Linked DNA regions of Homo sapiens. The protein of the gene in region 1 interacts with the protein of each later gene in a pairwise test. Each region holds a gene or a part of one and is shown on either strand. Other genes may lie near its edges.

Evidence for each region.
Region 2: the proteins of CLCC1 (region 1) and PIGBOS1 interact in binary tests that used the Homo sapiens proteins (3 or more experiments, as listed by UniProt).

What each region holds. Positions count from the first base shown.
Region 1 is NC_000001.11:108,931,717-108,940,093, forward strand, and holds part of CLCC1 (chloride channel CLIC-like protein 1 isoform 1 precursor), read right to left. Parts: coding exon 8,329-8,377; intron 8,067-8,328; coding exon 7,920-8,066; intron 6,593-7,919; exon of another isoform or gene 6,450-6,592; intron 5,703-6,449; coding exon 5,361-5,702; intron 3,227-5,360; coding exon 2,954-3,226; 3' UTR 2,909-2,953; exon of another isoform or gene 2,904-2,908; intron 2,830-2,903; exon of another isoform or gene 786-2,829; 3' UTR 1-785. UniProt on the Homo sapiens protein: Anion-selective channel with Ca(2+)-dependent and voltage-independent gating. Permeable to small monovalent anions with selectivity for bromide > chloride > nitrate > fluoride.
Region 2 is NC_000015.10:55,315,307-55,323,441, forward strand, and holds PIGBOS1 (protein PIGBOS1), read right to left. Parts: upstream 3,818-8,135; 5' UTR 3,558-3,817; exon of another isoform or gene 3,522-3,557; intron 2,562-3,521; 5' UTR 2,487-2,561; coding exon 2,322-2,486; 3' UTR 1,878-2,321; downstream 1-1,877. Other genes in the region: PIGB (GPI alpha-1,2-mannosyltransferase 3), read left to right, coding at 3,945-4,107, 4,969-5,104, 5,967-6,084. UniProt on the Homo sapiens protein: Plays a role in regulation of the unfolded protein response triggered by endoplasmic reticulum (ER) stress resulting from the presence of unfolded proteins in the ER lumen.

The DNA.
Region 1 (8,377 bases):
AAAACTCAGGTAAGTTTCATGGGGTTCTTATAAGAAAATTCAGTTAAGACAATATACCAAACCACAACGTAAAAAGTTTGTGTATACAAACTTTTTGTATTATTTGTACACAAAGTACAAATTTGTATTTGTACACAAAGTACAAACTTTGTGTATTATTTTGTGTATACAATAGTTCTTACAGCCTGTAAACATTCAACATTATTCCATTTAAACATTGTTTTTAACAGCTGTCTACCCTGTTCTGATTTTCCTAAAAGCTTCACACTATATAGGCTGGGCACAATGGCTCATGCCTGTAATCCCAGCACTTTGGGAGGCCGACAAGGGCGGGTCACTTGAGGTCAGGAGTTCGAGACCAGCCTGACCAACATGGTGAAACCCCATCTCTACTAAAAAATACAAAAATTAGCCAGGCATGGTGATGCACATCTGTAATCCTAGCTACTCGGGAGACTGAGGCAGGAGAATCTCTTGAACCTGGGAGGTGGAGGTTGCAGTGAGCCGAGATTGTACCACCTCACTCCAGCCTGGGTGACAGAGCAAAACTCTCAAAAAAAAGTAAAATTTCAAAAAAGCTTCACAATATAAACCTTAATTTTAATGACATATTGGCTAGTCAATAAACAAGTCTTATCTCATCTCATCTCTTTTCTGATAACAAACACCCGATGTGTTCAATTTGCTTTCATATTTAAGTCTTTCCTGAATTGCTGTCATCATTCAACAACAGTTGCATGTCGCCTTGCTAGCTGTCAAAGTAGACTTCATCCCCAAATGGATATCTGTAATGAAAGAATACAAAGGTGAAATTTTATTTAAAAATTTTTTAAAAGAATTTGGTTTTGGATTAAAAGGCATGCAAGCAGCATTAATTCCACTCACAGTTACAGTCTATCACCTGGGGCATTCACTACTTTTCAGAGTCAGATCACAGTTCAAAAGACAGCTCTCACCTTGGGGGCATATTCCCCAAGTCAGTGTGAACATGTCTTGTCCCAAGAGGACACTTTATACGCATGGATGTTCACAAATTTATTCTAAACTGCAGGTGTCTGTCAGGATTCATTTGTTAAACATGTCCTCTGTGTTAAAAATCCTAAAATCCTTTTGCATTTCTTAGAAAAAATCACGTTTCTGATGAAATTCTAAAGATGTTTGCAATATTAAACTAGAATATATTAACATGTATAATTTTGAGACAAGGTCTTGCTCTGTCACCCAGGCTGGAGTACAGTGGCTCGATCATAACTCACTGCCACCTCACGATCCTCTTGCCTCAGCCCTCCAAGTAGCTGGGACTACAGGCGTGTACCACCATGCCTGGCTAGTTTTATTTTTAGTACATAGCCTTGAACAACTGAGCTTAAGCGATCATCCTCCCTCAACCTTCCAAAGTGCTAGGACTGTAGGCATGAGCCACTGCACCTGGCCTAAAATTACATTGTTACAGGCACGTAAGTAACACTTCCTGGATCCAAAAATGTGTATTCTGCATTTCAACAACTGAACTTAAGCGATCATCCTCCCTCAACCTTCCAAAGTGCTAGGACTGTAGGCATGAGCCACTGCACCTGGCCTAAAATTACATTGTTACAGGCACGTAAGTAACACTTCCTGGATCCAAAAATGTGTATTCTGCATTTCAACAACTGAACTTAAGCGATCATCCTCCCTCAACCTTCCAAAGTGCTAGGACTGTAGGCATGAGCCACTGCACCTGGCCTAAAATTACATTGTTACAGGCACGTAAGTAACACTTCCTGGATCCAAAAATGTGTATTCTGCATTTCATATTAAAATAAAAAAGCAAGTGCTTGGGATACAAATATCTGCATGAAAATTTAAAGACTTTATTCCTGACTGGTATCACTTTTAGTAAGCAGTTGAACATAACTTGTAGTGTGAATATGGTTAAAACAAAGGACACCTGATGTCTGTGAAGTCTGCTAAGGACAGGTACAAAATTTATGCATTGCTTTTTAAAAAGTTTAAAATGAGGAATGCTTTTGATAATCAGAAAGACTAATGTAAAGTGCTGACTGATGTCCTGTCTGCAGTTAAGGAAGACACCCAACTCTCTTCTTCCTCATCATGGTATTCTCTATGTATAGATCTCTAAAAATGCAAACTTCCTATGGACAAGACAATATGATTTGCTATAATATGAATTAAGATATGGTAATATCTAATAGTCTCCACTGCTAGGATTCTGAGTAACACAAAAAATAGGTTTTATAAAAAGCCCATGCACTTCAATTGGTGGGGGAAAAGAATAAAGTCATTTTCAGTCGACTGACTCTGTAAAACAGATTACCAATATAACAAGCTATGTTATCTAAATTGCCCTGGCAGTCTTCAGTTTTCTCTAAGTAAACAAAGTAAAAGGAACAATAAGGATGCAGGCGTAGTAATAGCTGTGGAAAAGATGAAACTACAGCCACAGTGACCTGTGGGCAGCCTGCGTAGAGATAAGCTGAGGTGTCAGTCAGACTGATCCTGGTAACGATACTCCATGGCTGCATGAAGATGCTGGAGGCATCAAGTGGGTGGCCTTAACTCTAGTGGATTCACTAGGCAATGTAAATTGGTTAGTGGGTTCCCGTAAGTGCCTGTAACAATAAAATTTCTTTTTCAATGTCCCCAATTCAAACTGGCCTCCTTAACTATCCAGAATCAGTGATGCCTGTCATCTGTTCATCTTAAAATAAACACTTCTTACTTTATGGGATGTAAATATCAAAGAGAAGATGAAATGAAAAGCTTTTACATATATAACGTGTTTGTTAATTCTAATTGTCAGTAAAAATGTGAATGTTGAAGTTGAAATGTGAATGTTGAAGTTGGCACCTTTGTAGTAATCAGAATTCTTGCAGAGAAGAGAAAGAGAGTGAAGAGTATACTTTACAAAGCTCGAAGGAGACTTGAGGCTGTCGTTTGTGCTGGTGTTCCTCTAGCCACAGGGGCTGCTGACCGGATCCTGTCCACGTGGTCCAGCCACACCTCTTGCGGGGCTGTATGTGCTGCCTTGGTCTGGGCTGCCTGCGGCTTCAGACTTGAGCTGGGCCTTTTCCGCTGCGGGTGAACCTTCTGTATTCCCTGATGTGTCTTGGCCAGAGACAGGCTTGGCCGACTGGCTGCTTTCAGTACTGCTTTCTTTCGGTGTGCCTTCCCCCAGGATTCCACCTGTCTCCTTGGGCTTTGTATCCAAAACAGGTGATTTATGCTATAAAGTACAAAATTACATTTTAACTGTTTAATGTAATGTGAAGTCTTAGTAATCAAACATATCTAAAAAGTTCCCACCCAAATCCGTTGTAGCAAGCTCCAAACTCTTTCAAATCCAGGGTCCAGTGCTGGGTTATAATTATATAAATGTTATTATACCTCACCAAACTCCACAGTACTCCCACAGAGGAGTGGGAACGCTTAGCGCATATACTGGGTGGTCTAGTGGCCCAGCTTAGAAGGGGTCAAGAGAATTGGTCATCAGTATTGTCAACTTCTCTTGCCTGGTGAGAATAATTCATTTGACAAATATTTCTTGAGCATATATTAAGTTCTAGGTGTTAGGGATACAGCAGGAACAAAATACATAAAACTGTTCTCACTGGAACTTATATTTAGGTTAGAAGAAAATCACACAAGTGTGATATGTTGAATTAAAGAGGCTATGTAAAAAAAGCAGAGAAGAGATGAGTGCTGAATGTGGGTGGGCTGGCAGGGTCAAATTACAGTTTAAATTAGGGTGGTCTGAAAAAGTGATATGGTTAGGCATGGTGGCTCACACCTGTAATCCCATAACTTTGGGAGGCCAAGGTGAGAAGACTGCTTGAGGCCAGGAGTTTGAGACCAGCCTGGGTAACAGCAAGACCCCATATCCACAAAAAATAAAAAATATTAGCCAGGCATGGTCGTATATGCCTATAGTCCTAGTTACTCAGAAGGCTGAGGCAAAAGAATCGGTTGAGCCCAGGATTTTGAGGCTGCAATGAGCTATGATCACTGCACCCCAGCCTTGACCACAGAGTGAGACCTTGTCTCCAAAAATAATAAAAATGAGTAAAGGCCTGAAGAAAGTAACCATATGATTGATATATAAATGAAGACTGTAGAATGAACAGCAGGTACAAAGGCTCTCAAGTTCAAGGAACAGTCAGGAGCCCTTATGGCTAAAGTAGAGTAAGCACGGAGGGAGAAGAGGTGACCAGAGAGGTAGTGGATGTGGGGGAAGGGGAGACCAAGGAGGCTTCCAGGCCATTGTAATACTGGCTTTCCCCTCAAGTGAGATAGGAAGTCACTGGAAGACTTCTGAGATAGGTGACAGGTAATTACTAACTATAAAAGCTGGAAGGACCATCTTAAGTTGTTTTTTTTTTTTTTTTTTTTTTTTTGAGACGACGTCTCACTCTGTCACCCAGGCTGGAGTGCAATGGCACGATCTCGGCTCACTGCAACCTCCGCCCCCTGGAATCAAGCAATTCTCCTGTCTCAGCCTCCCAAGTAGCTGGGATTACAGGTGCATACCACATCACGCCTGGCTAATTTTCTTGTATTTTCAGTAGAGATGGGGCTTTGCCACGTTGGCCAGGCTGGTCTTGAACTGCAGACCTCCAGTGATCCGCCTGCCTCGGCCTCCCAGTGCTGGGATCACAGGCGTGAGCCGCCGCGCCTGGTCCATCTTTCTAGATACATGTAGATATGTTTATTTTTATATGAAACTATGGGAAGGGATTCTATAATTTCCCAGATTCTATTATGCTCATAACTGTTTCAAAGGTTTAACAGCTGCAATTTAAACATTTCAAATGACAATACAAATTCCTCTCTCAAACAGAAATGGAAATGTCCCTTTAAAAGACTGATAATGGTGAAAAACTTCTTCTTACCATTCTACAGGTAAAAAGTATAGTCTAGCCAGCCAATGACACTGAAGATTTGGGGAAGCAATGTTTTTGATCCCTGGCCCCAGCCCACTCTTCCATCCAGCTAATCCTTTAGGGCTCTACTGTACCTTCCCTAGAGCTCCGGGCCTTCAGTGATGCCTTCTCTCTGATCTCTTCAAAGATAGAAATTTCTGTCATGCTCATACGCTGGCTTCCCATGAAGGTTCATATGAATTACCATCTGCTCTAACAAACTACTGTTAAATTGTATTTTACATAAAAGTTAAATCTAATTTTATTTCTTCTGAGGAAGCTGAACTAACTTTTGACCAGAAAGGGGAGAGAGTGAGTGGCTGTATCACTCATGATATAATTAAGGGTGAGGGGTAAAAGAGTAAAAACAATCAGACCTCTTCCAGAAGGATTTAGAACCAGTAATGAAGGGACAGCAGAATAAAAGAGTTGCTGACTTACACTGGGTACCACCGTGGGATGCTCTCGTGCCTCTGCGTCTGGTACATCAAATGCCCGGAGCACTTCAGGGCTCTTGTTGCCAGTCTGAAATCTCAAGTCAACATCTCTCTCTCTCAAAATCTCTCTTCTACCCTCATACGTTTTGGCATAAGGGCCTTGCTCAGTGGGGCCCATTTGGCCCCTATAATGGAAATCGGCATCACCTGCTCCACCATCAGGTCTATAATCAATTTCCTCCTGCCGTCTTCTATCCCGTGGCCGAAGTGCCTGGGGAGGTTCGCTCTCAGGACCGCCTATATGTCTCAGCACATGAACTGATTTTCCAGCACCATAGCAGAAACTCTGTAAGGAAAAGAAATACATTTTCCTGAGGACTCAATGGCTAACTTACAAAAGTTATGAGGCATTTTATTCAGAGTGCTAACAAAGTTATGTAATTTAACTTACTTGTGGCATTTATAGACATAAACATGTTAATTTGACTTTTTTTCATTAGAGACCTCTTTAGATTAATACAAGGCCAGAGTGGCCAATAAAACTTAATAAATCTTTCAGTAGACATTTTAATCAGCTAGACACATTTCGATTGAACTATAACAATGGCAGGCTGAAGCCTAGATATTTAAATTAGAAGGTTCTAGTCTGATAATTATTCATGTTTCTAGATTCATGCCCATCATATAAGGTAAATGCTGAAAATATTTAAAGTTGTATATCATTATGTAAACAATCTTCTGTACATTTTCTTTTTACAAATATAAACTAGGCTTAAGTTACAGCTAAAATTCAACAGGTTTTGATTCACATTCCATGGGAAAAAGTAGGCAGCAGTTCCTTACAGTGTGGCCCAGGGACCCCCGGGGGATACCTGAGACTTTCAGGAGATCTATGAGATCAAAACTTTTCATAATACAAAGACATTATTATTTGTCTTTTTCACTGTCCCCTCCTGAATATACAACGGAGCATTCCAGATGCTAGAGTGACAGCCTCACTCAGACTCAGGGGATGCATGCTTGCGTGTACAGTACTCGTATGTTTTAAATTTGTTTTAACTCCTAATATGTAAGTATCAATAAATATAATCACCTTAAGTAAGAGCTGTTTGTGGGCTTCAATTTTTAAGACTGCAAAGAGGTCCTGAGAACAGAAACTTTGAAAATTTCTGTACTAGTTTTTCAAACACTACTATTTGAAGACAAAAGCAGCAAAAGTCAAAGAGCATAACTTTCCTGAGGGAGCACATGAAACAAAAACAGATGGTGAAGACTCTGCTGATAATTTCAGTTTCAGAGACTAAACTATGACTATAGAACTAATGTCACCTAACAAAAAAATACCCGTCAACCACATAATCCTGTAATCACAAGCCAAAAAACAAAACCAAAAAAGAAACGATTTCAAAGTGAACAGAGATAGTGAATCTTGTATCCTTAGGGAAGAGAATTTCCCTTGGCACATCTGAGTTCTTTTTGTTTTATGCGACAACTGCTTTACTTGGGTAATAGCTAAAAAATCGATAACAAAAAACACTGAATAGACCATGGAGGGATGACGAGTAATATTTCTTCTTAATGTCTGCTCCTGGATCCCCAAACTCTTTCTCAGCATACCCATGTTCTTCCACATCCCTTTCTGGTTCTGTGTCAAACTCAATGCTCTACCCTTCTCACTGCTGCAAAAACTGACTAGAAATAAGAAGTCCCCCTTTCTGGGAGACAGAAATCAACTTCCTATTTCCTGTGTATTAATTTACCAAGGTTAACACATTTAAAAAGAGGTTATTATTCTAAATCACTGCTATGACATATGCAATCAAACTAGAGAACTACTTTCTTGATTATAAAAATATACAAGTAAGTATAATATGTCTGTATCATTTAGAGGGGCAGAGGGGAGGAAAAAAATCTGTATCACTTAAAAATCGCCTTCTCATTAAGCGTGACTTAGCCTGATTTACAACATCAAAGAAGCCCAATAATTTTAGCATTGCCTTTTTTTCTGTAAATCTTGCTAAATATTGACAGTGCTAATATTTAATACTAACCAGTATTACTAATATTAATACTAAGATTTAATATAAATCTTGCTAAATACTGACAGTGCATATATATATATAAATATAAATATATAATATATAAATATATATTATATATAATAAATATATAAATATAGACAGATATATAAATATAAATATATATAGATAGATATATAAATATACATATATGTATAATTTTTTTTTTTTTTTGAGACGGAATCTTGCTCTGTCGCCCAGGCTGGAGTACAGTGGTGCGATCTCGGCTCACTGCAAGCTCCGCCTCCCAGGTTCACCCCGTTCTCCTGCCTCAGCCTCCCGAGTAGCTGGGACTACAGGCGCCCGCCACCACGCCCGGCTAATTTTTTGTATTTTTTTTAGTAGAGACAGGGTTTCACTGTGTTAGCCAGGATGGTCTCGATCTCCTGACCTCGTGATCCGCCCGCCTAGGCCTCCCAAAGTGCTGGGATTACAGGCGTGAGCCACCGCGCCTGGCCCGACAGTGCTAATATATTAATACTAACCAGGATGGCTAATGCCATAATTATCAGCACTGGAAGATGAAGCAGCGCTGGAATTTCCTTCATGAGTGCTTTAATAAATTCCCCAGTTCCTTTTCCAATATGCTTCAATGGCTCCGTTACAAATGTGGTGAATGTAACTGCAAGTGCCTAAAACGAGAGAAAAGCAACTTAATTTTCTCCTCACAGGACTAAGGTACAGAATGCATCAAAATTCATTGAGTACTGATGCTGAAAGTATGTTACATAAATTAAAATGCTGTTGTGCCATTTTTAATGTGAAAATCACTGTGCAAAAGTATTTTTTCTTGGACAAACGCTTATTAGCAAAATGACTCAAACACTAAAGTTCTTTAAAATACAAGGGATTTCTGACTGACTTTAAGTAATTTTTACAAAATATATGCTATACCTTTGTTGGTGGGACCAACCAAATAGGGTTGACTAGTAAGAGCTCATAG
Region 2 (8,135 bases), on another chromosome or scaffold:
TCTAGAAGAAAACCTAGGCAATACCATTCAGGACATAGGCACGGGCAAAGACTTCATGACAAGGCCACCAAAAAGCAATTGCAACAAAAGCCAAAATCGACAAATGGGATCTAATTAAAGAGCTTCTGCCTAGCAAAAGAAACTATCGTGAGAGTGAACAGGCAACCTACAGAATGGGAGAAAATTTTCGTAATCTATCCATCTGACAAAGGGCTAATATCCAGAATCTACAAGGGACTTAAACAAATTTACAAGAAAAAAACAACCCCATCAAAAAGTGAGTGAAGGATATGAACAGACACTTCTCAAAAGAAGACATTTACGCAGCCAACAAACTTATGAAAAAAAGCTCATCATCACTTGTCATTAGAGAAATGCAAATCAAAACCACAATGAGATACCATCTCATGCCAGTTAGAATGGTGATCATTAAAAAGTCAGGAAACAACAGATGCTGGTGAGGCTGTGGAGAAATACGAACGCTTTTACACTGTTGGTGGGAGTGTAAATTAGTTCAACCATTGTGAAGACAGTGTGGCAATTCCTCAAGGATCTACAACCAGAAATGCCATTTGACCCAGCAATCCCATTACTGGGTATATACCCAAAGGATTACAAATCATTCTACTATAAAGACACATGCACGGCCAGGCGCGGTGGCTCATGCCTATAATCCCAGCACTTTGGGAGGCCGAAGCAGGTGGATCACGAGGTCAGCAGATTGAAACCATTCTGGCCAAAATGGTGAAACCCCATCTCTACTAAAAATACAAACATTAGCTAGGTGTGGTGGTGCACACATGTAGTCCCAGCTACTACGTAGGCTGAGGCAGAACTGCTTGAACCTGGGAGGCGGAGGCAGAGGTTGCAGCAAACCAATATTGCGCCACTGCGCTCCAGCCTGGGCAACAGAGCCAGACTCCGTCTCAAAAAAAAAAAAAAAAAAAGAATTTATGTACTTTGTAGGGACATGGATGAAGCTGGAAACCATCATTCTCAGCAAACTAACTAACACAGGAACAGAAAACCAAACACCACATGTTCTCACTCATAAGTGAGAGCTGAACAATGAGAATACATGGACACAGGGAGGGGAACATCACACACTGGGGCCTGTCGGGGGCGGGTGGGGGGCAAGGGGAGGGAGAGCATTAGGACAAATACCTAATGCCTGCAGGGCTTAAAACCTAGATGACGGGTTGACAGGTGCAGCAAACACCATGGCACATGTATATCTATGTTACAAACCTGCACGTTCAGCACATGTATCCCAGAACTTAAAAAAAAAAAGGAGAAAAAAAGAAAATACAAACTTAACGCTAGAGTAAAAAGTAATACCAATTCTTAGTAACTTCAAAAAAAATTTTAACTATATGAATAATAGCTTCATAATAAATTAACTACTCCCTTAACACAATTATTAATGCAAATTTGCTTAGTGGATTAAAAAACATCTGTGTCATATCTGCCATCCTCTCAAACAACATCTACCTTCTCTAAAACCTCAATTTGATCTGAGCCATCCCAACTCTCAACTACTCCTCCACACTGCCTGAGATGAAAAACGGCTGGGATTGAATGACTGCCAAAATATATTAAACCAATCTAACTGCAGGGTAACGGAGTGGATTTCTGCCTGAGGTAGTTTAAGTTGGTTCACATATCTACAAACACTATTGCAAACACCCTTCCCAATTATTATATACACACTGAGACTGGCACCCCATGATACTGCATATGCTGAATTCCTAGAAAAATAAACCTCAAGTAGAAAATATTCCTAAAATATTCACTTTTGTTTAAAAGGAAATTACTTATCTGTCCTGGTAAAAAGACATAAAATGACAAATATACAATAAACATTAAAATTAACAGTGTTAGGTTAAAAAATCATTATCCATGATTTATTTTTAAGTACATCTATGTTTTTGCTAGATTAGAGTTAACATAATTAAATGGAACTTTAAGCAATTATTACAGTTCATCTCCATGAGGTATTTGTGGGTTTTTTTGCTTTTTGTTTTTTTAGATGGAGTCTCGCTCTGTCACCCAGGCTGGAGTGCAGCAGCGTGATCTTGACTCACTGCCACCTCTGCCTCCCAGGTTCAAGTGATGCTCCTGCCTCAGCCTCCCAAGTAGCTGGGATTACAGGCGCATGCCACCAAGCCTGGCTGATTTTTGTATTTTCAGTAGAGACAGGGTTTCACCATGTTGGTCAGGCTGGTCTTGAACTCCTGACCACCTGATCCACCCGCCTCGGCCTCCCAAAGTGCTGGGATTACAGGCGTGAGCCACTGCGCCAGGCCTAACTCCATGTAGTATTAACTTTTCTTCTCTTCTGATTCTTGTACCAACTGCATCTTTTCTTTTAATTCCTTCTGATCTTTGGCATACTGTTCAAATACTGGTTGAAAAATATATACTCCTCCAGCAATTCCAAGGACAGTGGCAAAAAGCAGTTGTGCAAAAGTCAATCTCCTAAACATTGCTGCAACAAATACAGCTCAAGGAAAAGCTGGTTTTGGAAAGTCACACTCCACACCCAGGAAATCTCTTCAAATCTGCATACAAAAATGGAAAGCAAAGCCATCACTTAGTACAATGTCCTTTTAAAAGATGTTATGTCACTACTTTGCACTGGAGTGAACAATATTTTTATAATATGTTACTAATTAAAACAAGAATATAAATACATAAGGAGTACAGGAAGTGAATTAGGGAAGGGTATAAGACAAAACTAAAACCTTTTCTATTACAGAATGTTCTCAATGGTTTTAAATGCATACTTTTTCTTTTTTTTTTTTTTTTTGAGACGGAGTCTCGCTCTGTCGCCCAGGCTGGAGTGCAATGGCGCAATCTCGGCTCACTGCAAGCTCCGCCTCCTCGGTTAACGCCATTCTCCTACCTCAGCCTCCCGAGAAGCTGGGACTACAGGCGCGTGTCACCACACCCGGCTAATTTTTTGTATTTTTTGTAGAGACGGGGTTTCACCGTGTTAGCCAGGATGGTCTCGATCCTCTGACCTCCTGATCCGCCCGTCTTGGCCTCCCAAAGTACTGGGAATACAGGCGTGAGCCACCGCGCCCGGCCTGGTTTTACTTTTAACAAGAGGAGTGGGCCGCACGCGGTGGCTCACGCCTGTAATCCCAACACTTTGGGAGGCCGAGGCGGGCGGATCACGAGGTCAGGAGTTCCAGACCAGCCAGGCCAATATGGTGAAACCCCGTCTCTACAAAAAAACACAAAAATTGGCCAGGCGTGGTGGCGCGCCTGTAGTCCCAGCTACTTGGGAGCTGAGGCAGGAAAATCACTGGAACCCGGGAGGCAGAAGTTGCAGTGAGCCCAGATTGCGCCACTGCACTCCAGCCTGGACTACAAGAGCGAAACTCCGTCTCAAAAAAAAAAACAAAAACAAAAACAAAAAAAAAACCTAACAACAGCAACAACAACAAAAAAAATAGGAACCATTCGGCCTGTTTCCACATCTGTACAACAAGCTAAATCATCCCTACCCTGCCTACCTCGTTGAACAGGCATTTTTTGTGAGAGCAACGAACCTGAAATGTTAACACCAACACTGACGTCTACAATTACCGTTACCGTTTTTAATAACCACTCAGGTACCTCCGACTGTTCTGCGCCTGCTCCACGTCACTAAACTCGCTACCGCCTGCTCCCCTCCAGAGACCGGGGGCCTTCCAGCAGTTTTCGGACCCCCGAGCACAGAGACCGCCAAGCCAAAGGCGAGTAGCAATCCCTCGGTTCGGAAACGGCGAAAGGAAACCGCAAGGAGGCCACCACGTCGGGTGGGAGCTACGAAGTTGCCCGTTCCCGGTTACTTCCGGGCTTGCGAGCGACGACTGCTCTCAAAGGCCAAACTTAATGGATGGACGAGCAGCGCGCTACTGCAGCTTTCTTCCGCCTTAGGAAGGTGGCGGCCAGGGATGAGGAGGCCCCTAAGCAAGTGCGGAATGGAGCCGGGGGGCGGAGATGCCAGCCTCACTTTGCATGGTCTCCAGAACCGCTCCCACGGCAAGATAAAGCTGCGAAAGAGAAAGTCTACCTTGTACTTCAACACCCAGGAGAAGAGCGCCAGGCGCCGCGGGGGTGAGTGAGGGGACACTGTCTGGAGAGCTCCTACCCCCATCTAAAAGGAACCCCCTCCATTTCATTACCAGCCAGTTGCCCGTTGAGCTCTGTGTTGCCAGATCTTGAGTTTTGAAATGCTGGGAAATGCTGGAAACACAGATTTTAATATAAATTCTGATTTTTAAATGTTGGCAACTAAATTCAATTTTTTAAAAAATACTCTGTATTTGGCCGACAGGCTGTCCATTTGTGGTCAAGAGCAGGACTTTGGAGACATCACACAGACCCGGGTTTGAATCCTGATAAGTAATTTACAACTTTATTTGGACAAGGCAGTTTAATTTCTGGGCCTCAATTTGCTCGTCTGTAAAATGGGGCTAATAATACCTATCCCATAATATTGTTTGGAGGATTAAGTGAGATGCATGTGAAGAAATTAACACAGTGCCTGGCATATATAATAGTAATCATCAATATATATGTACAGAGGACCATTTTATATTGCACATATACAAAGGGCTGCTTCCCAAATTAGTAATTTGTTAGCTGGTTTCTTTCATTAGATACACACATAGTATGACCTAATTAATTAGCCTAAGGCCTTAGTTAACCCACTCTTTTTTTTTTGTATTTATTTTAATATTATCTTTACACAATAAGTTGCAAGAAAAGTTGGTTAAACTAAAAGAGTGGCAGTCACCCAGTGATGACGCTGTGGTGCTTGTATAACCAACCAAGTTGGCTTTAAGAATGGTGTGGAGGGACCAGAGGTCACTACTGTGCCTTACAAGGAGCCAACCAGAGCAGCAGATTTTAAGTTTTGCAAGTGGAACTGCCTGACTTTTGTGCCACTATTACCTGTTTTGTTCTGTTTTTCAGATCTTCTTGGAGAAAATATTTATCTGCTCTTGTTTACCATAGCTTTACGAATATTAAACTGCTTTTTAGTGCAGACAAGTTTTGTTCCAGATGAATACTGGCAGTCTCTTGAAGTTTCACATCACATGGTTTTCAAATATCCTTTGTGGTTTCTTTTCCAGACTATGAGTGTGTATTCATCTTGGAAATTGTGCTCAGTTTCTTTTAGAGTAGTCCCCCTTGCTCCCTCGTCTTCAGTAGATAGTTTCCAAAATCCCTAGTGGATGCTTGAAACTGTAGACAGTACCAAACTCTATATATATTGTTTTTATATATGTAAAAAATACACACACGCTTATGATAAAGTTTATACAAATTAGGTACAGTAAGAGATTAACAGTATTAAAATATAACAAGTATAACACAATACTATAATAAAAGTTATGTGAACTTTTATGTGGTCTCTCTCAAAATATCTTCATATTTTCAGACAGTGGTTGACTCTGGGCAACTGAAACATGGAAAGAGAAACCACAGATAAGGGGGGACTACTATACATATTTTCAGTTTTCCGTATTTTCCCCAAATAATTTTAACTCATCAAAGTATACCATTATTTTATACAAATATTTCTCCTGTATCTTTCTTTTATGTTAATATACTTGACACAGCCGTTAGCATACATTCCCACAGTACTTAGCACTTGGAGGATACAGAGAAAGTAAAAAACACATTACTGCCTTGAAGAAGTTAAGAGTTTAGTTGGCCAATTGAATTTTTAATGCAAATATCCAGTATAAAATGCTGTTTTAAGACTGCCACAAAATAAAATATTGTTTTATAAATGGAAATGAAAATAGATTTTGCCAGGTGAAGTGGTGTGCACCTGTAGAGGCAGGACCACTTGAGCCCAAGTTTGAGACCAGCCTGGGCAAGAGAGTGAGACCCCATCTTAAAAAAAAAAAAAACACGGAAATAGGTTTCAATATTATTGGACATTTACTCCTTAATGTTACTAATTATGGTTATTTGACTTGGGAATGGACAGAGAGACTGAGGAGTTACACTTATCCCTTAATCTTTGCAAGCATTTACAAGATTCTTCATCTTTTAGGGAAAGATAGTGTTCAGTTGCTGGTAAGTTTAAATAAAAGTAACTAAATGATATTGGGGCCATGGAATTTGTTTTTAAAAGGCTACTGTTGCTGAAGTCCAGCCATATCTGGGAAGCCCATGATACTACAGACATACTGTGATGTGTAACTCTTTAGTTTGTGCTGAAATACAAGACTGAGCATGAAAATATCCTGCTATGAGGAATCCTGTTATGATGTGCAGATTTTCAAAATGACTATATTATGTATTATTTGGACATTAGAAGTATACTTCTTTCTTTTTTTTTTTTTTTTTTTTTTTTGGGACGGAGTTTGCTCTTGTTGCCTAGGCTGGAGTGCAATGGCGTGATCTTGGCTCACCACAACCTCCACCTCCCGGGTTCAAGCGATTCTCCTGCCTCAGCCTCCCGAGTAGCTGGGATAACAGGCATGCACCACCATGCCCGGCTAATTTTGTATTTTTAGTAGAGATGGGGTTTCTCTGTGTTGGTCAGGCTGGTCTCGAACTCCCGACCTGAGGTGATCTGCCCGTGCGGTGGCTCACACCTGTAATCCCAGCACTTTGGGAGGCCGAGGCGGGCGGATCACCTGAGGTTGGGAGTTCGAGACCAGCCTGACCAACACAGAGAAACCGCGTCTCTACTAAAAATACAAAATTAGCCGGGTGTGGTCGCGCATGCCTGTAATCTCAGACTTTCTGGAGGCTGAGGTAGGAGAATCACTTGAACCCAGGAGGTGGAGGTTGCGGTGAGCCGAGATCACGCCATTGCATTCTAGCCTGGGCAACAAAAGCGAAACTCCTTCCCCCATCCCCCGCAAAAAAAGTATCACTTGAGAGCACCGTTGTATTTTGTGTTTTTTACCTTGTAAGAAGACCGTGTGATATGATTTTATGAAGTCTGTATACATCTAAACCCACTGAGGATTTAGTGTTGAAATTAAAACTTTAAAATTTTTAATTTGACAAACATTTAATGATCTGCATAATCATCGTCCTATATAGTAATTAGGCATCAACAGTAAGTAGGATTGTAATTCCTAGGCTATTAATTGCTGGGGTCAGTTGCCAGGAGATAGTACAAGGGCAGGACTAATGGTGTAAAAGTTTCTCTAGCCTCACTCCCATGATCTTTTAAGCTGTCATCAGATGAGACTCAGAGTTTGTGCTCCCCCCGATTTCTGTCAGTGGGGGTTAATGGCTCAGCATTCCAAAGGCAGTCCAAATCCTGACGTGTTTTGTGTAGCTTAGAAAGACACAGGTTCTAGGGTATTTGTTTTAAGGTGGGGTTGTACTCTCCCCATTGCAATATTTGCTTCCGTTATTGAGAAATTAGGGTTAAACCAGTGAAACCGATGCTTCAAATGGGAAGATGATGGGGAAGGAGAATTCAGAGCAGTAGCAGAGTTTCTTCCATTAACAACAGGCAGAATTTAGGAGCCGCAACCTGGCTTTTCTTCTCTTACAGTTATCTACTAGTTTATAGATTATGCAAGGTATCCATAAAGTCTGGAATCACAAGAAAATATACATAATCTCATCAATGACAGTTTATATCCCAGGAAGTAGGTCAGATTACAAATGAAGAGGTCTTCAAGATAGAAAAATTTCCTGCTCCTCCAAGACCTATCCACTGCCCTCCATCTGTAGCTGACCCACCAGGTCATTTTGTGATGTGAAGGAAGCCTCCCCTGACCTGCTCCAACCCCTCTAAAAGGAACTCATTGTCGTATCTAGAACTTGACCCTGTAGAGATTCATTAGGATATGATCAGTCATTCATACTCTCATATTGATTATTTTAAGCAAATTATATACATAATTTTGAAGCTAGAAGAGGTTGGAGAAGTGAAGTAAATAGACCAAGGTCACAACGTGTTAAAAGCAGAACTAGAGCTAAATCCCAGGTCTATTTACTCACAGCCTAGTGCTCTTCCCAGATGGCTCCTCTACAAACTGCATAAGGCTTATGCACAGCTAGGCATGGTGGCTCACAGTTGTAATCTCAGCACTTTGGGAGGCTGAGGTGGGAGGATTGCTTGAGGCCAGGAGTTTGAGAACAGCCTGGGCAACATA